2 linked regions of the Homo sapiens genome follow. The protein of the gene in region 2 interacts with the protein of the main gene of each other region in a biochemical or structural test. Each region holds a gene or a part of one and is shown on either strand. Other genes may lie near its edges.

Evidence for each region.
Region 1: of the proteins of NHLRC1 (region 2) and PPP1R3C, one has a biochemical effect on the other in vitro, tested with the Homo sapiens proteins (one study listed by BioGRID).

Annotation. Positions count from the first base shown.
Region 1 is NC_000010.11:91,624,405-91,640,509, forward strand, and holds PPP1R3C (protein phosphatase 1 regulatory subunit 3C), read right to left. Parts: upstream 8,668-16,105; 5' UTR 8,566-8,667; coding exon 8,552-8,565; intron 6,463-8,551; coding exon 5,523-6,462; 3' UTR 4,038-5,522; downstream 1-4,037.
Region 2 is NC_000006.12:18,111,287-18,126,869, forward strand, and holds NHLRC1 (E3 ubiquitin-protein ligase NHLRC1), read right to left. Parts: upstream 11,392-15,583; 5' UTR 11,321-11,391; coding exon 10,133-11,320; 3' UTR 9,154-10,132; downstream 1-9,153. UniProt on the Homo sapiens protein: E3 ubiquitin-protein ligase. Together with the phosphatase EPM2A/laforin, appears to be involved in the clearance of toxic polyglucosan and protein aggregates via multiple pathways.

The sequences.
Region 1 (16,105 bases), on a different chromosome or scaffold from region 2:
ATGTCTCCAGCACTCATGCTCCATGACAGCAGAAATCATGTTTGTCTTGTCTTGTTCATCACTATATATTCAGTGCCAAACACATAGTTAGTGCTGTATAAATATATGTTGGATGAATGAGTGACTCTTCCTACAGTGCTATTCAGATACTGTTCTGTCCCAATCAGTAACACAGAATACTAATATTAGTACTAAGTCCTTATTTGAGAAAAGAATCTCAAATTTAAGATTCACACTGTAAAAAGAAAAATTTGTGGGGAAACTTTTTATCATTAGTATTAGTGACAATACATATTTATTTATTACATACTATTGGCCAAATACTTTGTTAACACATCATCTCCATGATCTCACTTTATTCTCATAATCACTCTGTGAGGTAGGAATTGTTATTGTTCCCATTTTAAAGATAGGAACACTGAGACTTGGAGACATTAAGTCACTTGCTGAAGGCTGCACCACAAAACTGGTGGGATAGAGATTTAAATCTAGTTCTGTCTGACTCCAGACCTAATTTCTTAATATGTGAAAAGTATGTGATTCATCTGCTTCTCTGGATAACTCATTTCTATCCTTAATTACAAACTGAAAAGTTGGCTTGTATTACCTTGGCCCTGTGAATAATTGTTTTTGAGTTGCTGCTGAAACAATGGGCCTCAACCATTTATGAATGCCTGTGTCAAGGGCAGCCATGAGATGGAGTCCCAGTATTCTTCTACTAAATGACTTGGTGTTTCAGAAGGCTAGACCTTCTCTAACCCCTGACTGAGTGGGCAGTTGTGGGGTGGGAATCCTGACTTTTCTGAGCCAATCATGAAGTCCCATTTCCCTGTGCAGAGACTAGTTCACGTACAGAACCATGATTTAATTCTGGTCAGTGAAACATAGGGGAGAGTCTGCAAGTCTGCAGTGGAGGATAAGAGAAGCTTCTGGACAAGGTTTATTCACCCATAAAAAAAGTGACACAAGGAAGAGATAGGCTCCTTCTCCTGGTGGGGCTATTATGTCTGCTTAACATGCCTGGAAACTATGGCAGCCATCTTATCATTAGGAAGTTAGCACAGGGACAATCAAGAGTAATGAGGATAGGCTGGGCACAGTAGCTCACGCCTATAATACTGGTACTTTGGGAGGCTGAGGTGGGCAGATCACTTGAGGTCAGAAGTTCGAGACCAGCCGGGGCAACATGGGGAAACCCCATCTCTACTAAAAATACAAAAATTGGCTGGGTGTGGTGGTGCGCGCCTGTAGTCCCAGCTACTTGGGAGGCTGAGGCACAAGAATCGCTTGAACCCAGGAGGCAGATGTTGCAGTGAGCTGAGATTGCACCACTGCACTCCACCCTGGGTGATGGAGCAAGACTGTCTCAAAAAACAAAAAAAAGAAAGAAAAAGAAAGAGTAATGAGGATGGTAAAATGAAAAAAACAGAAATAACCTGAGTTTAAGCCACTGACTTAACCAACTTTGAAAACACTCTACCTTGCATCTTGTATTGTAGGATAATCTATTTCCTTTGTAGTTGAAGATACGTGAGTCAAGGGATCATGTCACTTGTGCCAAAAAGCCTCCTCATTAACCTACTCCTATACACAAAAGATCAGAAAAGAGAAAAAGAGATAATTGATTAGTAAAATTAAGAAGTCCATGTCCAGGTTGTTTAGCAGGAGATGGTATGGGCAGGGCTGGGGGTGTTGGAGAAGGGGCAGTAGGCCAAGCTCTACTATTTCTGTAATCTTCAGCAAATTTTAATCACTATGGACCTCTATTTCACCGTCTGGTTGGTTTTTGGTTTTTTTATTTTTAATCTTTAATTTTTAATTTTATTTTTAATTTTTATTTTGTGTGTGTGTGTGTGTGTGTGTGTGTGTGTGTGTGTGTGTAAGTGGGTGGAGGAATCCTCTGAGCCATTACATGACTCTGTTCTCTGAATCGGGACAGTTGAAAACACTTCACACAGCTTAAATCAGAGGTCCTCAAACTTGATGCATATTGGAAACATCTGGAAAGTTTTTAGAACTGTCCAATGCACAGGGCACGACTTGGACCAATTAAATCCAAATCTTATGAGGTTCAGGGGGAGGCATCAGTATTTTGTAAAGCTTACCAGTTAAATCTGATATGCAGGCAAAGTTAAGGACCACTGGCTTAGAGGGACCATCCAAATCCAGGAATGGGTGTCCACTCATTGTCAAAAAGAGGGAAAAGTCAAGGCCAGGAGTCAGCAACGGTGCACATGGACTGCTCTGAGTTTGGGATCCTTCCCCACTAATGAGAGGGTTTGTTCAGATGACAGCTCCCAGTAGCTGCCAAAAAACTCTATGAGGAACCTAGAGATGAAAGCTGAGGAAGAGATTCTCCCTTTGCAGCTTGAAGGGTCACTCAAACTTGTGCAGAACTTTTGGATTCACATTGATAAAGATGCACAGTTCACTGCCACCCTAGAGTTTTCCAGCCTTTCAGTCTGGGGATGAACTAAAAGGAGAGCCATCAATGTAGAGAGAAAAAAAATAGTCCTTCCTTAAATAACTAAATTAAACTTAATATTTTTTGGAACAGAATATCATGCATTCCAAATTTAAGTTATTCTCTCATGTTAAATTTTTAAAAGCAAAGTTGCTTCTACTATTAGGCGAGATATCAGGATGTGAAATGCAGTTAATTCTATTTGATAGTAAAGCTCCAGGAACACCCTGCTCTTTGACCAGCTCCTCCCTCATCAGCTGCCCAGGGTCACCCCAAAATTGGGTCAAGCTGGTCATGCCTGCCTGAAAATAGCTCTCCTGTAAGAAGGGGGCTGCGGGAGAAGGGGCAACTCCATGGGAGATTTCAAGGAGGCTGTGTGAAGCAGAGGGAGGGACACTAAGTGACAAGTCACTGTTCAGCTGGCTCACCCTGGCCACACTACCTTGAACAAGTCACTTCACCTATCTGGATCTTAGTTTCTTCTTTTATAAAGTTAGGCACTTGAGCCCCATGGTCTTCGAGGTCCCTGTCAGACCCAAGTTTGATTTTTCTCCATCCCTTGGGAACAGGGCAGTCCACCAAACCATCAGCATAAATAGAGAGGAAACAAAATAGGGGCTGTAAATTCCAGCTCTTACAGAGCTCGGCAGATAGTGTGAGAGAGTGAAGGCATGGGTAGAGACTGTGGCCAAAACAAGGCAGTTTGACCCATCTAGGATGCATGCCCCATCTAAGGGGCACAGCTACTATTCAACTTCATGTATTTGTTGCCATGTGGGGAGACCTTACAATTTTTTTAGGAAAAAAAGTAAACCCAGATTTTTTAATGTAGTCTGCTGATGGTTATATCATGGCAATAAATTCTTTAAAAATCCCGTGTCAAATAAAATACATCTGTGCCCAGATACAGCCTGCAGGCCTGTGGTTTACAGCTCTGACATAGAGGATTCTATGATATGATAAAAGTTTATTCTTCATAATTGGGCCTTTTTAGTAGATTGGTCAACACTGTGCAGATCTTTCTTTAGATACACTGTGCAGATTTTAGGCAGAACTGGAGCAACAACTTAGGTTCATGGACCTGCTGCCTCTCACCCCAAGGAGCAGTGCTGCTCCCTTCAGTCCAGGACTGGCGCCTACTGCCCCTTCCCTATGCCCCTCTGTGCAGCTGGAAGTTCTGCCCGTTCAGGAACGTGCTGTAGCTCAAGACGTAGCAGCCACTCCAACCTTTCCCACACCAACTCCTTCCCCATTTTAAAGCTGAGACATGGCCTCCAACATAACCCTGACCCAGCAGATTGTGTGTGTGTGAGCAGAAACCATAGATGAGGACAGTCAGGGTAGGGGAAGAAGTAGTAGCAACAGCTCAAGTTATTGACCCTGCTCTCCAGCCCCAATGGTCAGGTGGTAGGAAGTGTGCTCACTATTGAGACTGGGGCCTTGTGAATATCCTCAGATGGATCCATGTCTTGGTCCATACTAACTCTGCTCAGTTGTTCCTAAATGAAAAATGAGAATGTCAGTTGAGTTTCTTATTTGACTGTGGCTTTGAGAAAGAAAATATACTCAGGCCTTATATCAAACACATTTATTCTTAAAGTGAGAAGCTCATCAAGGATAGCTAGAGGAGAGTGAAATATTTACAGTAGAAAAGTATGGATGCTAGCCAAACTTCAAATTCTGTCACTGCAGAGTTATTCCGATAGTACTTTTCCACCATGGCACATCACACATGTTAAAATTAACTGCATTCTTGTAACACCTCTCAATGGTTGTGCACAATAATAGAAGCAACATTCTGGGACTCTTTTTCTTAAGATCCTACAGAATGAATTTATGCACACACAAAAACAAGTATAATACAAAACATTCAAAACAAGTCACATCCATTTTTTTAAAAAAAAGAAAACAGCAAGATGAAAATAGGCAAGGGATGGGTTGCTACTTCTATGTGCAAGGTACTGGATTCTTGCATTGAGAATCCTAGTGTCGGGCCTCACGTCAAGCATCACATCAAAAAAGTGTGCAGAAAAATGAGTCACCTTCAATATGAAGGATGTGAGTTGTGTACACTGACAACGGTCTCAAAGATACAACATTATTGCAGGAGGAATGCCTGTGTACAGAGTGGACCATCTTATGAGGCCAAAAACCCATGAGTTACCAGATGACCATTCAGATATTTGGGTTAAACGATGACAGTTTTCTGGTTTAATCAAGGCACTTGCAAAGAGCTATCTTTGACATGACATGAAGTCCCTACGTGTTGTTAGCCATTAATGATGGCATGGTTTTTCTATACCAAGCATTCTATAACAAGAACCCAAGCCTGACAGTTTGATCACAAAGTCACTTATAACATCAGGACTACAAAGCCAGATTTGCTTAAACTTTCCCCAAATTATGATTTTTTATAGATCACATCTGAACAGAAAGGCTTCACTTAAGATCTTGATTCTCCGGAGCTATAATTCATCTTCTTTCTCCAATACCACCCACATTCTTAAAGGTTATTTAGCTTTTCTCCACAAGGATACGTAGAATGGATCTTTTTCCCCTCCAGAAATAATTTCCCCAGGAAAGAATTGTAAAACCAACTTAAAAACACAAAATAACCTTACGTTTTTCCACCAACAATGATCAGACCTCCCACTCCTCTGACTTGAGCTTCAGAGCCCTTTGTGTATACTTTTCACACATTCCTCATACCATTAACACAGCTTTCCATCACCATCAGCCATCCTTCCTCAACTTTTCCTTGCCCAACATGAAAGCTAGTGGATTGAGAGGGAAGGAAGAAGGGAACTGAAAAAGTATTACCTTTATAAAAATAGTTTTCAACCTGTTACTTGATCCTTCAAAGCCAAATTGGGTAGCATCATCTGTACAGACCCCAACACTAAATTCTCAAGTGTCTTTCTTTTCCATAGCCAGGTCTCAAAAGCTCAAATCTAAACCTACTGATGGAGTAGCAAAGGCTTCCTAAAATTGAGCAATACAGACCTAGGATTGCATGGGGGAATATGACAAGTCAAGACCAGTTACATTGTTGCTTAATTCATCGATAAGAGGCCAAGTTCTCCATTCTCCCCCAGCTCTGCCACTCTGGGAAGAGCCCACTAGCCAGCCTCGGACTGCCAAAGATTGTTGACTCTAACTCTGTCTTAGGAGACGTCTGGTGGAATGCACAGTCCTGGGGTGCCATCTGTGTCTGCACCCCATCAGGCTTCCATTGAACATGAACAATTCTATAATTCTGACCATCATTGTTGTCCCAAAAGACTTGCCCATTAGCATGGTAAGAAATGCAGAACTCAATTTTCTGCTCAGTTGGAATGACAGGGGGTAAGTCAATGGCAAATGAGAAGGTATCACTATCTGTGCCACCATACACATTTTTCATATAGACACAGTCTACGTCAGTGTAGTTTTTCCAAGAATCGAAAGTGATACGGATCTGAACTTTCTTCTCAAAACTCACATTTTTGACTTTAACAGTCCCTGTCACTGTTCGCTCTTGCAACGAGCAGTTCTCCAGACAGACAAAGTTCTTCTGAAAGTGGCTCCGGAAACTTAAGTAATCGGTTGAAGGCTGAGGGAAATCTAAAATCAAGTTTTTCTCCTCGTGGTGTTTTAAGGCAGAGGAGATATCATTAAGGTCCAAGAGATCAAACTGCAGATCCCACGCTGGTTCTTCTGGGAGGTCGGAGAAGACATGGATCGCAGTGAGAGAGAGGCCCTTGGAGTCAGCAAACACAACGCGCTTCTTGGCTTGGTTGTGTGAGCACTTCCAGTCATTCTGTGATTTGGCTTTGTGTTTTATATTGAGACATGATTTCAGGGGCTTTAATTTATTCACAAAATGTCGTCGTTGAAATTCATCGTACGGGCCCAGGAAACTCTTCACAGGTGGTGAATGTGCCAAGCAAAGCCTCATGGCCACATCCACGGGCATGACCGAACTTGTCAAAGGACGTGGATCTAAAACCTGGATCATTCTGGAATGCAAAAAGAAGAGGGATTATCACCTGGATCGGAAATGCTCTTCCCCAGTGCCAAATACATATGTACTATTTTTGTGCTGACTGAATTATAGCCAGTGCACTAGATATCAGGCAGGTGCTATCATATGTAGTAAAAGAGAACAGTATTAAGTGATCAGATCTTCTATGTCTACCTCTACCCTTGGCCGGCTAAAGGCTATTAATTGCTTAAAACACTTAGAGGGTGATGGGGGTCTCAGTTTCCCCATCTGAGAAATAAAAGGGTTCGATTTGATTATCTCCAAGGCAGCCTTGAGAACTGTGTGCTCTGTTCTGGACCAGTGGTCCTCAAACCTGTCTGGTCACTATGTCTAGGGAATTCATTTTCTTTCTTTCTTGTCTTTCCTCCTTTCCTCCTTCCCTCCTTCCTTCCTTTCTTCCTCTCTCTCTCTCTTTCTCTTTCTTCTTTCTTTCCAATTCCTGGGACTCAGAACTACTGAGGCAGAACTTCTGGGGCTAGGGCCAAGGGATGGGTATGTTCTTAAAGCTTCCCAGGTGATTCTAATGACCAGACAGGTTCAGGAGCCACAGTTCCAGACCCTCTGCTCCCTCTGGCTACGTTGGCTTATTTTGCTGCTAAATTGATTGACACTTCTCTGGTAAGGTAATTCACTTGAAAAAAAAAAAATAACATGCAACAGTTTTGAGAGTGAGAAGGCTAGAGAAGAAGTCAAAGAATCATCTTTGCACTTTGATTATCATGCTCTTATTTTTCACAAATAACCACTGAAATACAAGCCAACAATTCATATGCACTTAAAAACTATATAATTGATAATTCACCTAAAGAGATGCCCATGACAAGTCCACATTTAAGTGGAAAAACTGATTACCTGAAAGTTGGAGTGTTTTAAAATATACATTTTATATATACAAACTTATAAATATTGAAAAACTCTATAGGAAATACACCTTTCCTAATAATTTAATAATTATTATTTCTGGGTGATAGGATTATAGATTATCTATTTTCGTTTTTGTTCTTTTTTGGCATTTTCTAATAGACATTTATAAGTAGAAAGACAATAAAACCATTTAAAGTTTTAAACATGACTATGCTCAGCAATATTAAACCAAGAAGCATCTATAAAGAAGACTTTTCTCTGACCTTTAGCCCTCATCATATATTTCCAAGCTTATGGTATTAAGATTTTTTTCCCTATCTTAGCCTTACAAGTAAGAGGTGTGTGTATACTGTACACGACATTTCTCAGTCTGGCTTTAGTAACTCTCCTCACAGCAGCTCTAAACATGTATGCAAGTGGTCATTATCACAAAAGTGTGTAATAACACTCGCAGAATTTACTGTGTTAGCTCTGGGGTTTTTCTGGGAGATCTGCAAACTTAGAACAAACAAATGAAAGCTAAAGCTATATTTGTGGGTCTAATAATAGTTAATAGGCAGGATTTTTAGAGAAGTCTTCTGCTAAGCTATGTCTGGAGAAGCTATTTAAAGTAGTTTTATGGGAGGTTTTTTTTGGTTTTTTTGTTTTTTTTTTTTTACTTTTTGCATTTATAGAAAGACAGTTTTAGTTTGGGTGATTTCCTTGGAACTTTAAGTCCTGGACAAGAGTTAAAAGTAATCGTTTGCTCAAACTCTTGAGATTTTGCTATGGCAAACTGTGATAAGAAGGACGAATGAATGCAAACGTCGTCCTGTAATTTTTTTCCTCCAAGCTAAACCACCTAACCAGCAATGTCAGAGTGCTGTTCTCACCACTTCAGCTGCCCGAGTCTTTGGGACATTTGTGCAGGACCAAAAGAACAGCCGCATCCATGAGAAAATCCTAACTCAAGCTGATTCACGTTAAGATAATTTCTGCTTTAAGATGCTGATTACTAAAATAGGCTCTGCTTAAGAAATAGAGCCAAATTTCTACACCTCCAAGGCCTCTCGGTTGCCAGATTCAACTACGCAGTCAGTCCACTTGTCCTCCCCCTGGGGTGTCCATTTCCAGAGATGATAGAACTGAAACGCCCCCCAACTTCCCCACAGCTGCGCGTTCCCCTGTGTTCCTAGCGCGCAGAGTTGCAGCGAACCTACCTGGTGCAGCTCATTAGGCAGAGAGGCGGCGGACCCTAAAAGCCAGCACCCGCTGCCTGCACAAATTCGAACCACAGCTCCAGGCCTTGCCCCCGCGGCGGTCGCTGGGAGAGACTGAGGGCCCGGCGCCTAGAGGCCGCTTATCTGCTCCCAAGCACGTGACCCGATCCCTGGGACCAATCGCCGGGCCTCGAGCCCCAGGGCGCGACCAACCAGCGCCCAGCTGGGGCGCCAGCCCTCGCCCCGGCAACGTGATCGCCCCGGGGCGAGACGTGCAGAGAGCTATCTGGGCATCGCGGGGAGGTTCTGGGACTCCGCGGCCAGCTGGAACCAGCCGCGTAACGGGAACCCTGGGCTAGGGGCCGGGCAGGCACGTACCGCATGCAGCGGGCGCCGGCCAAGAGAGAGCGCAGCCAGCCTCGCCCAGGCGGGGCGCCAGTGCCTCAGGCTTGGGGCGGCTGTTACTTGGGAATAGCTTTGTGGGTCACTGCGGGTGAATCTGCACACAGAAGATGTGGCTCAAACCGAATGTGTATCGCATTTGAAATGTTTATATCGTTCATTACCCGGTGTATCCGCATTTCTCCCTCACCTTAGCCTGCGCGATCCCAAACTGGCTGCATGCTTTTCGATTAGTATGAGTTCACAGATGCACCACACAGTAGACAGCTGCCGGGAATTACCAACTTATCTAACAAATGTTGTTAGGAAAGCATACGAGCCCCATAAAACACCAAGGTGGCATTTAATTAAAAGACACTTCGTATTTCTGTCTATTCTTCAATTTTCTCCCCTGCGGGGAACACTAAAGCCGGAAGTGAAATGACCCTTTTCACACATACAGCCGGTCAAGAGGCAGCAGTCAACCCAAACCCCTTACTCAATTCTGACGTCCTTTGGCAGTGGTGTGGAAATCAAAATGTTAAAATAAAATTTAAAAAATCACGCCGTATGTTTCATGGGCCTTCTGAGCCACTCACTTTCGCTGAAGTTTCATTATTTTGATTAGTTTGAAGAATTTTTAGACCATCATTTACAACTGTAAAATTAAATGTCTAAGTCAAGTCTAAATTATTTTTATAAAACCCACATCCTAGTTTTGCTCCCCTAATTGAGCTATCCATTAGTCAATTAAAATATACAAAAATTCCTATGTCTTTTAAACAACTGTCAAACAGTGGAATTGTTAAAATTATTAGAGTGAAGAAAAAAATCACACTGAATATCACTGGGAAAGGGACTTCATGCCTGGGTTTTATTTTTGAAATGAAATATCTAACTAATGGCAGGTCTTCTAGCCCCTTTAGCTCAACCAAAACTAGCTGGAAGGTCTTTGGATTGACACTTACTAGCTACACGAATCTAGGCAAGTTCTAACCTCAGTTTCCTCATGTGTAAAACAGAGATAGTAACGTTCTGAAGATGAAGTAAGATGGTGCCAATGAACAGACTCAGCACGATGCCCAGTGCCTGTGTTCCACCCGGGCTAGTTCCCAAGTTTCTACTTGATCTCTCAGCTAGAGTTTTTACTCTATCACCTCAAGGCGCCTGGTGCCTGAGCTAAAATATTGAGAATAGCTGCTGCTTGTTGAGCCTTTACTCTGTGCCAAACACTATGTGCTATCAATTCAATCCTCACAACAACCCTATGTGATATGTCCAATTATTAATCCCATTTTAGAGAAAAGAAAACGGAGACACTGAATGGTCAGGAAATCTGCCCAGTGGATCACTTGAGGCCAGGAGTTCAAGACCAGCCTGGCCAACATGGTGAAACCCTATCTCTACTAAAAATACAAAAATTAGCCGGGCATGGTGGTGCACACCTGTACTCTCAGCTACTCTGGAGGCTGAGGCAGGAGAATCGCTTGAACCCGGGAGGCGGAGGTTGCAGTGAGCTGAGATTGCACCACTGCACTCCAGCCTGGGCAACAGAGCGAGACTCTATCTCGAAAACAAAAAACAAAAAAAAAACCTGCCCAGGTTCTCACAGGTAGAGCAGGGATTAGAGCCTGGCTGATACCAGAGCAATAACCGCTGCACCATATTGTCTTATTTTAATGACCCATCAATGGTTAGAATTATGGAGGTAGGAGGTGATAGGCATCAAACTCTTTATTTCACAGATGAGGAACTGAAAGCTTAGACAGGTCAAGCTGCTTGCCAGGGGCTGGCTAGGTCTGAGCCAAAACTAGAACCCTGGGTATTCTTTTCCTCTACCCATGATTATATGTTGAGCTAAATAGTAAATATTACCAGTTAAAACTATGGAGAAACATGAATAACAATTTATGGTGATCGCATTTTGAGGGAAAGGTATCCATGCATAGAAAACAGAATGTGCTCTACAGAAATGTGAACAGTTCATTTTGGAATGGTGAGATTATGAGTGATTAAAAATGTCTTCGTTGTTTTGCTGCTCTGTTGTTTTTCTTAATTTTTCTACAATGAACATACACGACCTAATTAAGAAATAATTTTTCAAGGGCGTTAAAACTCTGGGATTCAACTAACACATATAGCGTACTGCTAGGTGCCAAGAACCGTGGTGGAAATTTTCACATGCTTGTGCCATTTACTCACACCACCCTTTCAGCCTGTTCCATTCATACAGCTTTCTCTCCTGCCCCCTGGTGTTGACTAATGCCATAGAAGTCACTCTCCCTTTCAGCTCCTTCAAATGGAAGATTCAGGGAGACCATGCTTTCTCCTAAAAGGACTCAACACTCACTCAATAAACCTCTAAATTGGATGATCCAGGCTTTTCACTTCTGTCTCCTTCCCAGCTTTTGCTCCCCTTCATTATTGGATGAGAGAAACTAGGATGGAATCAGTGTTCTTAGTTGTAGGTTGCACCAATGAAGACAGAGTAGAAAGGAATCGTGGGGAGTTGTACTATTATTCGTAGGATTTCTCCCACTGTGGTTTGGCAGCATCTAAACATTGCTTGGTCCTACCCATCTTAACAATCAATCTATCAGCAGGAAATTATTGAGCTATGCAGTAGTTCCAGCTCCATGCCAGGGGTTACAAAGTCTGAGCAGTCATAATCCTTTGACCTTGAGGAGGTTACAATCATTATTACAGAAAAACAAATTCATAGAATACCCAGCAGACATTTTAAGAAGCTACTAAGCAAGGAGCTGATAATTGTGGGGCTTACACAAGTGGGTCTCTTACAGCATTCACTCAACACGTTGCCTGAGAGCTGCCTTTGGAAAAACACCCTGGGGGGTTGCCAAGTTGCCAACTCATTTTCTGCAAGCTTGTCTTTTTTCAGTGCCTAATCAAGAAAGTACTTGAGAATTCAGCCTCATAGTTATTAATATAAAAATGTCAGTACTTTAACCACAGTTAGTGGTAACTGAGAGAAACCTCGTAAGTGATCTTGAAGATCACTTACGGAGTTTCAGTGAAAGAGTCAGGGAAGTTGCGAACTGGTTTTTTTTTTTTTTAATTATTATTAAAAGGAGCAGGTTTTGCATTTTGGAGAACAAAAAAGGTGCCAATTCATTTGTCTCAGTTAATAGTAAGCGCTCTTGTACACTATTTTCTTCTTCCTTCTTTAGCTACATTCAACAGGAACTCCAATATTAAGTAAAAGGATACAACCTGAAAAACATATACTGCTTACTTTGGGCTCGGCACTGTTTTAAGCACTTAGAAATATTAACTCATGTAATCTTTATAAGAATCCGGTGAGGTAGAAACCCATTTCACAGATGAGGAACGTGAAGACATCGAAGGTGCCAATTGTCCAAGATCACACAGCTAGTAGGTGACAGGATCAGGTTTCAAGCCCCTCTAGAATCCACGCTCCTAGTATGTGAGTTGCTCTGAAAAAGACAAGCACCACACTGGTAGCTACCAAGACCAAAAAGCAGCTCCGAAGGCCAAAGAGATCCCGAAAGGAGAAGGCTCGCTGTGGAATATCTGTGGAAGCTTCAAGGAGGTAGCGGGAATTGGGAAGGCCAGGAAAATGGGAAGAACTTAAATATGATGTGCTATCATCTTTAGGGCATTTAGATGACTAGAATACAACTTTGTGGCTCAGCAAATAAGAGAGCAAATAAGATCACCATTGAAACGGTGCCAGCCACCCACCGTTCCACTCAAAGGGCATATTCCCAGAGGCAAGTGGGGAAGTGAAAGGACTAACAAATCTGCTTGTTGCCAAGTAGACTATGCTACCAGCCATTCCGTTTGCACTAAAGGGATTTTCAAGTATAATTTTCACTACTGGAAATTTTTTAGTTTTTACCTCAAACCCCATTTGTAAAATAGTCCAGTAAGAGCAGACAATGGTCTAGGTGTGGTGGAAAAGCATAAGTGTTAGCAAAATAAGGGGTTAAAGAAAGTGCAGGCCTGGGTGAGGTGGCTCACACCTGTAATCCCAGCACTTGGGAGGCCAACGTGGGTGGATCATTTGAGGTCAGCAGTTCAAGACCAGCCTGGCCAACATAGTCAAACCCCTTCTCTACTAAAAAATAAAAAAATTAGCTGGGAGTGGTGCTGGGCACCTGTAATCCCAGCTACTCGGGAGGCTGAGGCATGAGAATCACTTGAACCCAGGAGGCGGAGGTTGCAGTGAACCGAGATCGCGCCACTGCACTCCAGCCTGGGTGACAGAGTGAGACTCCCTCTCAAAAAAAAAAAAAAAGAAAAGAAAAGAAAGTGCAGGATGCCGCCTGAAACATGTAGGTATCTCAGGTGAGGTGAGGAAAAGGAGAGGGGAGGGCGGATGAAAAAAAAGAATGATATAACTGTATCAGGTTGACTTAGTGGCAAATGGATCATGTGAATATTACACACATTTGCTACACATGCTTCAGGACTTTAGAGAAAGGAGAAGCCTCTGGGGGTCAGGATGGCCAAAGAGGACCAGGACTTATTGAGTAACTACAAGGAGAAGAATTTGGCTAAAGGTGAGGATTCTGGCTGGGGAGCATGAGGAGGAGAGGTCAAAGGAGAGAGGTTTTTTTTTCTAGGCAGACTCTCACCTGTTGCCTAGTCTGGAGTACAGCAGCACTATCTCAAACCTCCGCCTCCCAGATTCAAGTGATTCTCCTGCCTCAGCTTCCCAAGTAGCTGAGATGACAGGCATGCGCCATGACGCCCGGCTAATTTTTGTATTTTTAGTAGAGACGGGGTTTCACCGTGTTGGCCAGACTGGTCTCCAACTCCTGGCCTCAAGTGATCTGTCCACATTGGCCTCCCAAAGTGCTAGGATTATATAGGCTTGAGCCACTGTGCCAGGCCAAGAGAGAGAATCTTAAGTGTAAAAATTTTTTTAAATCTGCTGGATTATCATGAACAAAATTAGAGATCTAAGTACTACAAAATGAAATAAGCAGAGAATAAAATAACAATCTGACTGTGGGGGAGGTACCATCCTTTTGTGTCGATAGTTCCATCAAGTTGCTGCAGTTTCTCTGTATTCATCGGAAGATTAGGGTGAATAAACAAGTAAGTTAGAAATAATCCATGCAGACATTATTAAAACACCTACTGAAGGGCATTTTAAAAGGCTTTAATGTGAGTGTATGGAAGATGGGAAAGAGATGACTTGTTCAGGGGGAGAATTAGAAACTAGCCAAAATGTACGGAAATTCATAGGAAACTTCAACATCAGAAAAATCAAAATAAGAAGAAAAAGTATTTTTGAAAAGAAAAATGAGATACTAGCCCAGTCAGCTTAAATTTGTTATAAAGTTAAAGTTTAAAAAATAAACTGGAATTGGTGTGTGTGTAAAGAAACAGATCAGTGAGATGAAAGAGTTCATAAAATAGACTACTTACATATCAGAATTTCATATATATGATACAGTGGGTAATTCTCATAAGAGGCGCTGAAGAACGGCTTATTCAATAAAAGGGCAGCTGGCTAGACATATAGGGTGGGGTGGGAGGATTGGGAGGATGTATGGAAGAAATTATTTTATTCACACCTCTGTGGAGGGGGACTACTGTGCTTTGATGGCACAGCAACATGTATGAATAAAGCACCTCAAGAGGGAATTCTGCAAAAGGATGGCTGGCCTGGTTCAACTGTCCTGCACGCTGTAATTTGGGTGACTTAGAGAGTTTTCTTTTCTTTTTTTTTTAGACAGAGTCTCGCTCTGTCGCCCAGGCTGGAGTGCAGTGACGCGATCTCGGCTCACTGCAAGATCCGCCTCCTGGGTTCATGCCATTCTCCTGCCTCAGCCTCCCGAGTAGCTGGGACTACAGGTGCCCGCCACCACGCCTGGCTAATTTTTTTGTATTTTTAGTAGAGGCAGGGTTTCACCATGTTAGCCAGGATGGTCTCCATCTCCTGACCTGGTGATCCGCCCGCCTCGGCCTCCCAAAGTGCTGGGATTACAGGCGTGAGCCACCACGCCTAGCCGAGAGTTTTCTTTTTAACTAACTTAGGACTTACGGGATAGAGAAAAGTACTGGGGCAATTACTCAGTGAGAAAAAACTCACTGAGACAATGTATTAAATATACTCTTTTTTTTTTTTTTTTTGGAGACGGAGTCTCACTCTGTCTCCCAGGCTGGAGTGCAGTGATGTGATCTCGGCTCACTAGAACCTCCGCCTCCTGGGTTCAAGCGATTCTCGTGCCTCAGCTTCCAGAGTAGCTAGGATTACAGGTGTGTGCAACCACACCCAGCTAATTTTTGTATTTTTAGAGGAGATGGGGTTTTACCACGTTAGCCAGGCTGATCTCAAACTCCTGACCTCAAGTGATCTGCCTGCCTTGTCCTCCCAAAGTGCTGGGATTACAGGTGTGAGCCACCACGCCCAGCCTAATGTATACTCTTAAGTACACATTCTTTCCTATCTCAAGTTCCTCCTTTCTAAGAAGCAGGAGAAAACTCTTCATGGGTACAGCTGATGGGATGTGTCAGCACTGGGTGGGCCTGGATGCTTTGTGTGTGTTCTCATTGCTCTATCTGGGCAGGGATGTGCACCTCTAGTTTTTTTTTTTACTAAATCTTTATATCCTGACTTTGCAATCTGTATTTTTACTTGAAAATCCAATAGCCTATGAGATGCAGAGGCTCTCTGCCTACCTAGGCCACTATTTACTCACCAGATTCATATTGTCCTGAATAGTCTATTTTTTAGCTCTGTATCTGGTTTCTGGACTCAGCTGTGAACTTAGCTATTGGAGGGGTTTTGAAGACCCTTTGGCAGAGGAGTCCAGACTGAAAACAAGTCCCCTATTTGTAAGGTACCATAACACTTTCTTTCTCATATGACAAAATTAAACCTCTCCTCCTCTACGAGTCCACTCCCCTCACTCACACACACACACACACAAACATATCACATCAACTTTTTCCTAACTCTGGACATAACTGTTAATAACTACTCGCTCCACAAGATGTTCAGAACTCTTTGTTCCTTTCTTTTAAGCCAGAATGCTGTATTTTCTCCTTTAACCATGAGGAGAAAAAGCAGATCTGGTCGAAGTCAGAGCTTTGTGTCTATCAGAGAACTGTTTCTGTTTAGCTGCTAAATGGCTGGTAAGTGGTTGAAAGTTCCAACTGGGGAAAGTTGGAGAGGAT
Region 2 (15,583 bases):
GAGAGAGAGTTCCGTATCCCATGTTTTGGAATTTCCAAAATTGAACTTCAATTAAATGCCACTAAAATTTACTTTTTGGCAGAAAAGTTTGCGGTTTATGTGATACATGCTCTGTTTTACAAAATCTGTATATGTGAAATGATTTTCAGGAATACGAATTTCATAGTGATGAGAGAACTCACTTCAAAAATGGTAACAGTTTTGTCTAATTAAAAGTGATTAAATGTCTGCATGCTTATCTGCATTTTCCAATTCCACAAAGAGCAGGTGTTACTTCTCTTCAGGGGGATAATTCAGGAGGAAAATTCCAAAGAAATGACTCCCAAGTCAAAGGCACATAAGAGAGAAAAATGGAAGAAAACTCTGGGGTTACAGTGTTTGGAAAGAATGTCCTCTTACAGGCTAGGCTTCTGCCATTTAGCACATGGCTTTTTTTTTTTTTTTTTTTTGAGACGGAGTCTCACTCTGTTGCCCAGGCTGGAGTACAGTGGCGCGATCTCAGCTCACTGCAACTTCTGTCTCCCAGGTTCAAGCAATTCTCCTGCCTCAGCCTCCAGAGTAGCTGGGATTACAGGTGTCTGCCACCACGCTCCTCTAATTTTTGTATTTTTAGTAGAGACAAGGTTTCACCATGTTGGCCAGGTTGGTCTCAAACTTCTGAGCTCAAGCAATCTGCCTGCCTTGGCCTCCCAAAGTGCTAGGATTACAGGCGTGAGCCTCTATGCCTGGTGGGCACATGGCTCTTAAAGTTCCTCCTCACCTTGTGGGTTAAGCCCTACACAACACTGGCATCAGATCAGAGAGCTGCAGAGCACTGTGTGCCAGAGAGCCAAAGAATTACATTCACAGATTTATGAAAATAAGAATATTTCATTAAAAAAAAAACAACAAAGACGTTTGGTTTAAGGGAAATAGCAGAACCTGACCCCCATCGCCAAGTCTTCCCCTGAGACCCTTGCTCTTGTCATGTAAATAGTTATCTCTCCACAGTACCTCTAAGTAGGGACCATTGTGTGGATCCTGTGACACTCAGATATTGACAGGATTCAGCCTACTTTATGAGTTGAAGTTCTGAAATAAGAAGGATGTCAATATTTCTTCCCAAAGAACATTACCTAGGGATTGATACAAATGATAACTATAAATCCCGCGAAGGGATAGTTGACATATTTGTTTATTCTCTAGAGCAGTGCTACCGAACCCTGGCTGTAAAATAGATTTACTTGGGAGAGATTTTTAAAAATAGCTGCCCTCCTCCAACCTAAAGCACCAGGCATTTGTTGGGTAACCTTGGGCAAGTCACTCCATCCCTGTGGATCTCAGCTTCTTCTCCTGTAAAGTCAGCTTAATAAAACCTGCCCTGTCTACTTCAAGAAATGTGAGGATCAAATAAATTAACGGCTTTGTGAAACAATGTATGAGTATTACAAAAATGTTAATTATGTTTAAATTCTTTAACCACACTCCTTGTAACCAAAGGCCTCTTTCTATTACAAGGACAGGCACTGCTGGAATACATTTGATGGCCATGAATGAAGTTATCTGACCCCTGTAGGGGCTGAGCCTTAGGATGTTGGACTGATTAGGCCCTATTTATGCAATAAGTAAAAACTCTGGCCTCATGATTATGGTCTTATTGGTTAACTTGGAAATACTAGTGTTCTCTTGGGCCCGCATGCATACAAACCTGGATGCCATCTGGAAAAGAAACACTAAGATGTATATATGGAACCACAAAAGACTCAGAATAGCCAAAAGTATCCCAGCCAAAAAGAACAAAACTGGAGGAATCACATTACCTGACTTCAATTTATACTACAGAGCTATAGTAACCAAAACAGCATGGTACTGGCATAAAAACAGATCCACAGACCAGTGGAACGTAATAGAGAACCCAAAAATAAATACATACACCTACAGTGAACTCATTTCCAACAAAGGTTCCAAGAACATACATTGGGGAAAGAACAGTCTCTTCAATAAATGATGCCAGGAAAACTGGATATCCATATGCAGAAGAATGAAACTAGACCCCTATCTCTCACCATATACAAAAATCAAATCAAAATGGATTAAAGACTTAAATCTAAGACTTCAAACTAGGAAGCTGCTATAAGAAAACATTGAGAAAACTCTCCAGGTTGTTGGACTGGGCAAAGACTTCTTGAGTAATACCCCACAGGCACCAGCAACCAAAGCAAAAATGGACAAATGGGATCACATCAAGTTAGAAAGCTTTTGCCCAGCAAAGGAAACAATCAACGAAGTGAAGAGACGACCCACAGAATGAAGGAAAATATTTGCAAACTTCTCATCTGACAAAGGATTAACAACCAGAATATATAAGGAGCTCAAACAACTCCACAGGAAAAACAATCTAATAATCTGATCTAAAAATGGGCAAAAGATCTGAAAATAGGCAGAAGATCTGATTTCTCAAAAGAAGATATACAAATGGCAAACAGGTATGTGAAAAGGTGCTCAATATCATTGATCATCAGAGAAATGCAAATCAAAACTACAATAAGAGATCATCTCGCCCCAGTTAAAACGGCTGGAGAGGATGTAGAGAAAAAGGAACCCTCATGCAGTGTTGGTGGGAAGGTAAATTAGTGCAACTGCTATGGAGAACAGTTTGGAGCTTCCTTAGAAAACTAAAGAAAGGGCCCGGGTGCAGTGGCTCACGCCTGTAATTCCAACACTTTGGGAGGCTGAGGCAGGCAGATCACGAGGTCAGGAGTTTGAGACCAGCCTGATCAATATGGTGAAACCCCATCTCTACTAAAAATACAAAAATTAGCCAGGCACGCTGGTGCATGCCTGTAATCCCAGATACTAGGGAGGCTGAGGTAGAAGAATTGCTTGAACCTGGGAGGCAGAGGTTGCGATAAGCTGAGATCGCACCACGGCATTCCAGCCTGGGCAACAGAGCCAGACTCCATCTCAAAAAATAATAATAAATAAGAAAACTAAAAATAGAGCTACCATACCATCCAGCAATCCCACTCCTAGGTATATACACCCCAAAACGGAAATCAGTATATCAAAGAGATATCTGCACTCTCGTGTCTATTGCAGCACTATACATAATAGCTAAAATTTGGAAGGAACCTAAGTGTCTGTCTACAGATGAATGGATAAAGACAATGTGGTACATATTCACAATGGAGTACCATTCAGCCATAAAAAAGAATGAGATCCTGTCATTTGCAATAACATGGATGGAACTGGAGATCACTATGTTAACTGAAATAAGCTAGGCACAAAAGTCAAACATTGCATATTCTCACGTACCTGTGGGAGCTAAAAACTTTAAAAATTGAACTCATGAAGATAGAGAACAGAAAGATGGTCATAAGAGGCTGGGAAGGGTAGTAGGGGGGACTAGTTGGGATGTGGGGGGCAAGTAAAATATCAAGCGTCAGCGTGTGTGTGTGTGTGTGTGTGTGTGTCTGTGTGTGTGTATGTGTGTTTATTCCAAGCCTCTGGCTTTTAGATCTTTTCCCACTAGAGAGGTTAATTTGGAATATGGAAAGGTCCATTTTTCTAGTCCTGGTTCTGCTCTTAACTACCTGTGTGACCTAGACTAGTCTTTTTACATACGTAGGCTTCGGTTGTCATTTGAGGGCATCATAATAAAAATATGTCTAAGTTTCTTTTCAGTCCTAAAACTCTACGGCTTGACACACAATTTTATCTGATCATTTTATAAGTAATTTCAGATTTGCAGTGTAGGTACTTTTATGACATTGTTAGTGAAGCCAGTGATTGATTTGACCAAAGTCCTTTGTCAGGAAATTAAGCTCCTATAAATAATATCATTATTTTTGCAGAAAAAATATGAACTGCTTTTTAATTTCCATAATGGGTATACTGTATATTATAATTTGCAGCCTATTAGTGAACAAATGTCTGTGGTTGGGCTGTGCATGCTGTATAGATGGCTCCTGGGAAAGGCAGAAGCTTCTTTATGCACCCATTATTGACCAGATTTAACCCAAAGATGAGTTTGACAACACTCCAAGCACACCATCAGGTGAGTGATCCAGGAACACTTTTAGTTCATTCTCTTCCCTCCAGATGGAGTTGGCATCACTGATATCACCTGATATTGGAGAGCTTGCAGATCAGTGTTTTCTCCACTCTTCATCATTTGACAAAGGATGTGACTCATGAAGACCAGGCAACCTTAATACCGCAAAGTCCCATGTACTTAGGTGAAAATGGAAAATGTGGTGGTTGAGAACATGAAGTTTTTCATGCAATTTCAACCCAGACTACCACAAAGTCACCATAATCCTTTGTAACTCTTTGAGTCACTCCACAAACCCACCACAAACCACTTTAATTCTAGACCAGCTTCTCCAAGCTACCCAGCTACCTATACCACTTCCCTTTTATCAATGAAAGAAATACATAGTCTAGAAAAATTCCTTGGGAAAAACACGTTAATTCAGCAAATATTTTTGAACGCCTACAATGTGTCAAACACCGCTCTAGACACTAGGGATACACTTAGGAACAACACAAACATCTTTCATGGAGTTTACATTCTAGATAGCTAGAAGCTGACAAAAACAAAGCAAAACAAAAACAAAAACAAAAAACCCCGATGCTTTTGCTTTTGATTCTTCTTCATATCTTTTAAACATGCTCCAGGTCGTCATGATCTTTCTTAAAATGTCGCATCCCAAAATCGAGCAAAAATTCCATTCAACTATTCTAAACTGAAACCTGGCCTTCCAGATCATAATGAAAGTATATTTGTAGGGTGAGCATGGTAGCTTATTTTGGGAGGCCAAGGATGGAGGACCACTTGAGCCCAGGAGTTTGAGACCAGCCTGGGAAACATAGTGAGACTCCATAAAAAAAAATTAAAAATTTGCCCAGTGTGGTGGTATGTACTTACAGCCCTAGCTACTGGGAGGCTGAGGAGGGAGGATGGCTTGAGCCCAGGGGTCGAGGCTGCAGTGAGTTATGATCACACCATGCACTCCAGCCTGGGTGACAGAGTGAAACCTTGCCTCTTAAAAAATATCTATCTATATATAATTTTTTATAAATATTTAAATAGAGATGGGATTTCACCATGTTGCCCAGGCTGGTCTGGAACTCCTGAGCTCAAGCAATCCTCCTGCCTCGGCTTCCCAAAGTGCTGGGATTACAGGCGTGTACCACCAATCTTGGCCAAAAAAAAGGGTATATTTTTAATATTTACATTTACCTTTGTCAAGGTAGGAGGATCAAATGTATTTTATTTAAGTTTGTTGGCTTGATTTATAAGTCTTAAATATTTAGACCTGTGGTATGTAAGCCTCTACTTGTTCTTTGGTCTCATACCCTACCGGTATTAGGGATTGATGAGTTAATGGGAGAGTGTTCCTCCCCACAGAATTTGTTTCCTACTCATGGCATCAAAATCCGTATATTTAAGACCAATTTTCTCCAAACCAATCATCAAAATATTACGACTCTTTTTTTTTGAGATGGAGTCTCGCTGTGTCACCCAGGCTGGAGTGCAGTGGCGCCATCTCGGCTCACTGCAAACTTCACCTCCCAGGTTCAAGCGATTCTCCTGCCTCAGCCTCCCGAGTAGCTGAGATTACAGGTGCCTGCTACCATGCTAATTTTTTTTATTTTTAGTAGAGACGGGGTTTCACCATGTAGGTCAGGCTGGTCTCGAACTCCTGACCTCAGGTGATCCACCCACCTCAGCCTCCCAGAGTGCTGGGATTACAGGTGTGAGCCACCATGCCTGACCAAACTTTCTGTTGCAAAAAAAGAAACAAAAAAAACCACAGAGATTTGTGCAGGTTAGCTGAAGCAGTGGAACATTTAGTATAAGAATTCTCATGGGATAGGAGAGAGTTGTTAGGACTCCAAGAATAGAAACCATAGGCAGCTGGGCCTTGCAGAGAGGCAAAGTGGAGTCAGGGCAGCTCCAGGGATCTTGCAGTAGGGATCATCATGCTGGTGCCCTGGAGGTAACATGGCTCCAAGCCACTGCTTTTCTGGATGCATTTCTTCCTCTCATTCTTACCTGGATTCCCGTGAGTTTTGTGTTCCCTTTGCCTCATAGCTTGTCATTCGTGATGTGGCTTGCCCACAAGGACTCTCTGCAACCCTGTAACTGAGCATATTTCTGGCATTCCCCAGGCTGCCATCAGCTTAACATGCTCCGTATTTCTCAATTCAAAATATCAAGGATGGCTGGGCGCGGTGGCTCATGGTTGTAATCCCATCATTTTGGGGGGCCGAGGCGGGCAGATCACCTGAGATCGGGAGTTCAAGACCAGCCTGATCAACATGGAGAAAACTTGTCTCTACTAAAAATACAAAATTAGCCAGGCGTGGTGGTACATGCCCTGTAATCCCAGCTACTCAGAGGCTAAGGCAGGAGAATCACTTGAACCTGGGAGGCGGAGGTTGCAGTGAGCCGAGATCACGCCATTGTACTCCAGCCTGGGCAACAAGAGCAAAACTCCATCTAAAAAAAAAAAAAAAAATCAAGGACCAGAATGTAATTGGATCTCTGTGCTCCTTGAAAGGAAGCCAGTTTCCTGGTCTAATTAATACATCTGGTGGAGCATCATTGGTTGATTGAGTGTCCTTCTGTTAGGTGTGCACCCCTATCTAAGTAGCTATGGTCCGAGGGGATCATGTAATAGAAAACCTGGCTGCTGACGGCTGGCTTATGATGGGACAGTTTTTCTTAGAAGTGGCTGTGGGCACAGAAGACACCATGGTTATTCAGTACAGTAGTTGTGGTGAGTCTCTGGCCACCCTATCATATTTGCTACACATTCTCCAAGAAAACAGTTCATCTCCTGACTAGCCATGATACACCACCATAGCATATCTCTATAGTGGAACACTAACGCCAGTATATATTTCTTCTTAATAAGGCAGGTGTAAGGATTATTAAATTTGCTATCATCAGTGGTTCTTCCTCATTTTTCTGAGGTGCACAGGTTAATGCTTCTTCCTCAGAAGGTTCATAATTCACTTCAGGTGGGGTCTGCACCCCACTTAGTCGGGGGCCAGGGAAGATATCTTCTGCATAAAGCACTAGCAAAATGGTGATGGTTTGGGTCCTGGGGTCCAGAGCTAGATTTGGTAGAGGGGAGATTTATGAGTGTGAACCAAGTTTTTTACAAAATGCCAAGGAAAGAGATTGAGAAAGCCAAGTCCAGGCGGCAAGTCCAGAAGGCAGAACAAGGTCAAAAGCAGGAGACAGTCCAAGGATCGGGAATTGGGCAAAATTGGAACAGATGGAGGGTGACGTGAGAACTGCTGACACAGGAGCCAAAGTGTCTGTGTTTGCTTTTATGGACTCACCAGGCAGGGCATGGGGGATATTCTGGAAGAGCCTATTTCCTTCTCCTTCTCCCTTTACTCCTGGGCAGGTTCTTTTGTTTCAACCTCTGAGAGTCATTCCAACCCTTCTTCATCAACTTGGAAGCTTTTACTTTCTGCTGGGGTTATTTTTTCCTGCCTGTCTCAGAATTCTCCAATTTCTTTAATAACCTGGAGTTCAGCATGACATATCTCAAGCCTTTTAACCAGCTTGCTTTAAAGAACAGTCTGTCTGGGCACAGTGGCTCATGTCTGTAATCCCAATACTTTGGGAGGCCGATGTAGGTGGATCACTTGAGGTCAGGAGTTCGAGACCAGTCTGGCCAACATGGTGAAACTTCGTCTCTACTAAAAATACAAAAATTAGCTGGGCGTGGTGGTGGGCGCCTGTAATCCCAGCTAATGCGGAGGCTGAAGCAGGAGAATAGCTTGAACCCGGGAGGTGGAGGTTGCAGTGAGCTGAGATCACACCATTGTACTGCAACCTGAGCAACAGAGCCAGACTCGGTCTCAAAAAAAAAAAAAAAAAAAAAAAAAAAAAGAACACAGTCCGGAAGATGAATTTTGCATCTGCCTTACAGGTCATTGAAACTATTCCCTCAGCGCATGTGTGCTTGAGAATCAAGAACAGCAAGCTTCATGTCTTCCTCAAGGAAACTCTGCTCCTGTCTTATGACATTCCTGGGAAGAGCTGCTTTATACAGTTCTTTTTATGTTGTGTATCCAGCCCCACCCCAGTCCCAAGCCTGATAATCTACCACGGAAAGATAGCAGTTACTAAGGTGGCTTGTTATCACAGGTCTGATACACTCCCTCATCATCTCACAGATGCGCACCTGATTCTTGACGTTGGGTAATCCACACGATGACCAGCAATACTACCTTGCTCACATACCTCCCTGTGTTGCATATTCCACACCTCTATCATGACTGCTGTCTGTAAAGGACACATGTCCAGCTTTATAGTCAGAGATGATGCCATTAATAATTCCAAAGAGAAAAATCTTTTGAATTGGCTCTACTAATTCTAAAATCATTAAAATGTCATTGTTCCTAAGGAAAATGGTCTAAGATCTATCCTCAGTTGCTGTACTCACAAATGACCAAATAAGTCTGAATTCGTATCTCCACCTGCAACAACGTTTCTTGTTATGTTTTCAGAATACCCGTGAAGTTACCAGCCTAGGGGTGACTTTAAGGGTGGAGTGTGTGCATGTGGGGAGAAGAGGTTTGTCCATAGAACTTCTTTTTAAAATGCATTTATAAATCGTGGTCTAGGGTGCCCCAAATCTTACTATTAGTGCTATATGATGAGAGCATTGACAAGAAAATGGGTTTTTGTGGACTGGCATGGGAGTTAGGCTCTCGCTTTTACTTTACGTGGGCGAGGCACAGTGGCTCATACCTATAGTCCCAATGCTTTGGGAGGCCAAGGCAGGAGGCTCTCTTGAGCCCAGGAGCTTGAAACCAGTTTGGGCAACAAAAACAAGATCCCATCCCTACGAAAAATTTAAAAATTAGCTGGGCATGGTGACACACCTGTAGTCCCAGCTACTCAGGATGCTGACGCAGGAGGATCGCTTGAGCCCAGGGAGTCGAGGCTGCAGTGAGCAGTGATCAATCCACTGCACTCCAGCCTGGGCAACAGAGCAAGACCATGTCTAAAAGCAAACAAACAAACGAAAAAACCCCATAAACATGTAACAGGAGCGTCATCAGCCCTTTGACGCTAGTATGTAGTGTGTTCTGCAATAGTTTAGAACTTACACAAATATAGGCCTTTCTCAAACAACCAAGTGGTATTTTCTGAGTTTGTATAGTGGAGAAGATATAGGCGTTAAAAGACATGTTTACTTTTTTAATAAGCAGTTCAATTGTTTTTCTTATTCACGTAACTCAGGATCAACAGTAACTTCATCTAATGTGCCATCAGAGCAGTCGCAAATTGAATGAAAGTGATGGCCACCACAAAATCCTTTTTCTCCTGAACTCTCCATAAAGTCTCCTTTCTTTGCACATCTTTGTGCTAAAATAATTAGCTACTTGTAAAGACAGTACACATAGCAACACTACACATTCACATATTTTTCCCACATCTGTTGTCTTATTTAAGCGCAACTTATTTGGAATCAGAATTGAATTCAAATTGGGACTAAGGCAGTAAGTAACTATGACCTCGAGGAAGTCACTTAAGCTCTCTGGGTCTCAGTTTTCTCACTTGTACAATGAGATTAATAATAAAAATTATGGCTGAGCAAGTGGCTATGCCTGTACTCCTAGTACTTTGGGAGGCCGAGGAAGGTGGATTGCTTGAACTCAGGAGTTTGAGACCAGCCTGGGCAACATGGTGAAACCCCATCTCTGCCAAAATACAAAAATTAGCTGAGTGTGGTAATGCACACTTGTGGTCCCAGCTACTTGGGAGGCTGAGGTGGAAGGACCACCTGAGCGGGGGACGTTGAAACTGTAGTGAGCTGTGATCATGCTTCTGCACTCCAGCCTGGGTGACAGAGCTTGACTCTATCTTGGGGGGGAAGAAATTACCTCACTGGATAGTACAGATTAAATAAGCTAATATTTGCAAATTTCCTTGCACAGAGTATGCATTCAATAAATGGTAGATTAATCTCCAATAACTGTCCCAAGCTTTGTAAGTCTGCCAGATGGTTTTAATTATCCCTGCCTGGATAGATGAGTTTAAGTGACTTATCCAGGGTTAAACAATTCATTAATGGCAGCACTAGTGCTTCTGATTCCAGGGACCCACCCCAGCCCATCACCCCCAGTCAACTTTATAGACTTTTATAGAATGAGATGCTGTGTCCAGCACAAGAAGAGAATTCTCCTTGGTGAAGGTAAGAGCCACAGGATGCGAAAGACCATGAGTGACCATGGGCTTCGGTACTGGAAACTCCTCAGGTTTTCCTAAGCAAAGGATAGCTGGACCAGATGTATCTGCAACAATCACATTTCCCTGGTGATCAAAGGTCACAGCGGAGGCAGTTATTTTGGAGGGAAAGTAGAGGCTCAGCCCAAAGGTATCCACTTGGCCGACAAGCTGCATACTTGAGCTAAACACTTTCACCCTGGTGCTGCAAACCCCAGTCCCCAGGGCCAGGGGGTGCTCCAGGACCGCAATGGCCCCGGTGAGCCAAGACACTGCCACCCCTCGGGGATTGCACAGATGAGCTTGCAACCTTTCAGTTCTCCGAAGGACCCCTTCCGCGAAGTCGACGTCCAGGAGGTGCAGGGACCCTGCCTCCGCATCAGTTACCACAATCCCATTCTGAGGGGTGGTCTCCACACCCCAAGGTAAGGAGAATTGGCCTCCAATGACAAGCTTGATCTGGCCAAAAAAATCAAACACTTTGATGGAGCGATCGCCGGCGTCAGTGACAACCACATGGCAGTCGTTGGTGATGGTGACATCCACAGGGTACCTAATGTCTTGGGCAGCGTCCCCCTTCTCTCCAAACTGATGCGCGCATCCTCCCCCTGAGTCAAAAATCTTGACACGCCTCCTGCCGTCGTGCACCACCACGACACGCCCCGTCTTGGGACAAAGCGCCAGTCCGGTGGGGTTGACCAGGGTCCCCCAGCCGCCGAAGGTGTGGTGGCAGGTGAGGGCTCCGGGGGCGCTGGGGGCGGCGCGATGGGCGGCCGGGGACTGGCGAAGCGCTGAGCCCAGGAGCTCTATGAGGTGCAGCACCGGCAGGCAGTCGCTGGTGTCGCAGCCCCGGCAAGCTCGCCTGCAGAATGGGCACTCGAGGGCCAGAGTGCGCGGGTGCGCCAGGGCGGCCACGCAGGCCAGGCAGACCACGTGGCCGCAGGACAGGTTGCGCGGGCGCCGCTGCTGCCGGTGGCCAAACTTCTCAAAGCACACCTTGCACTCGAGCAGGCTGATCTCCGCCTCGCGCATGAGCTCATGCAGCGCTGGCCCGCTCTCCGAGGCTTCGGCCGCCATGGCGCGTCCTGTGCACTCCCGCCGCGCCGCCTGGCCGTGCCCCAGCGACGCTCTCGGTCACGGTCACAGTCATGGTCACGGGGTGGGACGTGCGCCCTGACGTCGAGCGCCGCGGGCCTCTGCACTGCGATCTGCTGCCCCTTGGTGGGCACGCGCGGCACTGTTTCCTGAGGGCCTGATGGTGGACGTTTGCAAGACAAATCCACATGCGCGTTGTGTAGACCTGTAATCGTCACAGCAGTCATGGATGGATTGTGTACACTTTCAGATGAGGAAACACACCTATTGAGGACAACAGGATTGCTCCCTGTCACCCAGCCTGTAAGCGGCAAAACAAGAACTAGAACCCAATCTTCCAGCCCGGGTGCCTAGCAGTGTCTCCAATCCGCAGCGCCGGGTGCTACGGCTGTCCGGGCATAAAACATGGTCCCTTAGCTCATGATGCTTATGATCTGAACCGGAAAACACGAACACACTAGAGAAGATAAACTCCAAGGGAGGTGAGGCAGATGTGTACATTTCTTTTGTGTCTTCTGTCATACTCATAGTTAAGTCAATGTTAGATGAATACATACTTGTAAAATGAATTTGTGCATGAATGAATGTTATAGAACAACAACAACAACAAAAAAAAATCAACGAGGTGAATGAGTGTCAGATGGGGCAACCATGCTGGAAGTGTCTTGCAGAGTAATTAATATGAAATAAGAAAGCTGTTAGTTAATAATAATTACCATAGAACTTCATTTTTTTGTTTTTTAAGACAAAGTCTCACTCTGTCACCCAGGCTGGAGTGCAGGGGCACGATCACAGCTCACTGCAGCCTCCATCTCCCAGGCTCAAGCAATCCTCCCACTTCAGTAGCTGGGACTACAGGCATGCACCATCACACTAGGCTAATTTTTTAATTTTTTTGTAGAGAGGAGGTCTCACTATGTTGCCTAGGCTGGTCTTGAACTTGTGAAAATTGTTCACATTCCTCCCCACCCCTTGGCCTCCCAAAGTGCTGGTGTGAGCCACTGTGCCCAGCCTATGGAATTCACATATGCCTGCCCCATTGTGTTAGGTTGGTGAAAAGGATTCGCAGTGTTTGCCATCACTTTTAATGGCAAAACCGTGATTACTTTTGCAGCAAATTAATAAATAATTTACATAGATTATCTTGTTTAAACCTCATAGCAATCCTACAAAAATATGTTATTTTTATTGTCTTTTTTTCTGATAGAATTCATAGAAATCAAATATCTTGCCCAGGGTCACATGGCTAGGAAGTGGCTGGCCTGGAATTTGAAGCCAGGCAGTTTGACTTCAGAGTTACCTATTTTAGTCATTTTCAAACTTCTTTGCACATGGTAAACACCTGGGTCGCACCCGAAAAGTTTAATTGGCCCATGGTGTGGTCTGGACAGCTGGGATTTATAAAAGCTCCCCAGGTGATTATAATGTACAGCCAAGTTTGAGAAACACTGCATTATAATAATTCCCTCAAATGACACTAAGTTCAGTTTTTCCAATCTCAGTTAAGACCAAAAACAAAGAGAATTTGCCATATGTTGGAAAATCTTCAAACAAGGGATAGCATAATCTGTGTGAAGAATCCATTGTGGTATTATAATCTCTCATTTTTCTTTTTCTTTCTTTTTTTTTTTTTTCTTTTTGAGACAGAGTCTTGCTCTGTCACCAGGCTGGAGTGCAGTGGCGCGATCTCGGCTCACTGCAGCCTCCACCTCCTGGGTTCAGGCGGTTCTCCCACCTCAGCCTCCTGAGTAGCTGGGATTACAGGCACCCGTGACCATGCCTGGCTAAGTTTTGTATTTTTAGTAGAGATGAGGTTTCACCATGTTGGCCAGGCTGGTCTCAAACTTCTGACCTTTCGCGTCAGCCTCCCAAAGTGCTAGGATTACAGGCATGAGCCACCGTGCCTGGCCCTAAACTCTTATTTTTAAGGGGTTCTCCCTCAAATGTCTTATGTGAACATTGTGCTTAACAAAACCTTGTATTAGAGAATTTCTTTTCCTTTAGAGATCATAATCATGAACATTCACCTTCTGATTTGCTAGATTTCTGAGAAAACACAATATTTTATCCCCTGTTGAGGCCCCTGGAAAGAGCTTTAATGTAAGACAAGAAAGAACATTTTCTAATCAAATGTCATTTGACTCAAAGATTGCGTACTGGGACACAATAACCAACTTAATAATTTCTGACTACATTTCCATCCCAAATAAACAACCAACTAAAATCACATTATTTATGCAATCACACCATTGCATAATTGATTAATAACAAATATGTCTTGAATCTCACTCTGACATTTGGCATTTCCTATGACTATCATTTCCTCCTCCATGGCTGGGCCTCCATGGATTTACCCTGTGCTTCCCTCCGATATTCCTTCTATAGAGGGTCCTGGACTAGCATGCCCATCTTTTCCTGCTTCCACCTAGAACAAGCCCTGAGAGTTGTGGGGGCAAAGGGCTTGAAGAGCAGAACGTCTAGTTTCCAAAGTGGTCAATGGCTGCCCTATGAAAAAGTACCATACTATAGTGGAAGGAGAGTGGGGACCCAGCTCAGGATGGTTCCAGCAGAGAAGAGAGCACAGGGGGAGCATGAGTTAGGGGGAGTCAGTGCTTAGACAGGTGGGCTCCTGGTTGTGCAGGTGGGGCAAATGTGCCAGACACATGCAGTTTAGAAGGAATCCCAGAACAAGTTTAATGATCCAATTACAACTCAGACTACCTGACAATGATGTAAGGGAAAGGAAGATGAACAAGCCACACAGAATGGGCTTTGCTTCCAGCCTTGCCCTCCTCCCAGGGGCGTCTCTGACCACCACTCTAATTTTTAAGCTCCATGTTCTTGGCATCTCAGGGGTGAGGGATGTGGTGGCAAGAGGAAGAATGGCTGTTTTTGAATTTTTTGAGTAAGTCCATACAAAAATGAGTGGAGATGTATGTTTGGAAATGGGGATCTAGAGATTTGAGTGCATCTCAAGTTCAATGCAATTGAGTGTTCCTCAGGGTGCCACCTTCAGTCTTTTTCTCTTAGCTTCCTACCTGTTTCCCTGAGCAATGCCATCTTCACTTCCTCGTGGTTTAAATGACCAGTTATAAGCTGACAGCTCCCTGCCTGTACCCCTAAGACAGCCATACCATATGAAGTTCAATGTTCAGTCCCTACCCCTACAACCTGTGATGCCTGAGAAAAGGATTATCTTCAATAATCAATAAACCTTTATCTGCTAGCACACCCAATAGTACTTAAATTGCTGAATGAATGCTGACTCTAATAGCAGGAGAAAGACTAAATAATAATTGTACTGCCACATTACAACATTATACAGCTATTTAAAAATCTTGCTTTTGAAAAATATTTAGTGACACTGTTACCAGTAGAAGGTTTGACTACAAGTTGTCCAGGTTCTTGGCTTTTTGAACAAAGAATTGGACAAAATGCACAGCAAAGCAGAGAAAGAATGAAGTAACAAAAGCAGAGATTTATTGAAAATGAAAGTGCTCCACAGGGTGGGACCTGGCTGAGCAGTGGCTCAAGGGCCCTGGTTACAGAATCTTCTGGGGTCCAAATACTGCCTAGAGGTTTCCCACTGGCCACTTGGTATTCATCCCATGCAAATAAAGTAGTGGCCCGCAATCAGTCTGATTGGTTGCTTTTGCTTGCTGCAACCAATGAGAGGCCGAAGTGAAGTTACAAAAGTTACACTCCTATGCAAACGTTTGATTGGTTGCAGATGTTTCTGCCACGCAGAAAAGGCTAGGGGCGGTGGGGTGGTGGAGGTTACAAAGGGAGTAGCCTCTGGTCCTTTTGTTACTTAGGCATGGAAAGTTGAGGTTTTCCTTTCAATTTAGTTCTAGGAAGTCAGCATGAATCAGCCTTAGGTTCCCTGCCTCAAGACCCTATTCTCCTGCCTCAACTCCAGGAAGGGTGAATGAAATAGAAAGAAAGATAGTGGAGATACAATACTGTATCGTAATGTGATCACAACAACCTTGTGAAAACATTCACATGTATGAGCAGACAAAAAAGATGAGAAGAAAATACATCACCATCATAGCAGTAATTATCTCCAGTGATAGGACTTGATTGCTTTTCTTTTTCTTTTTAGACTTCCCAAATTTTCAATGCATAAAGGATTATTTGTCATATTTAAATATAAATAACTTAATATTTTATGATATATTTCATTTCTAAATATCTGCCTCGATTATCCTCCTGTTGTCGAAAGTTAACACCAATAGTGAAATA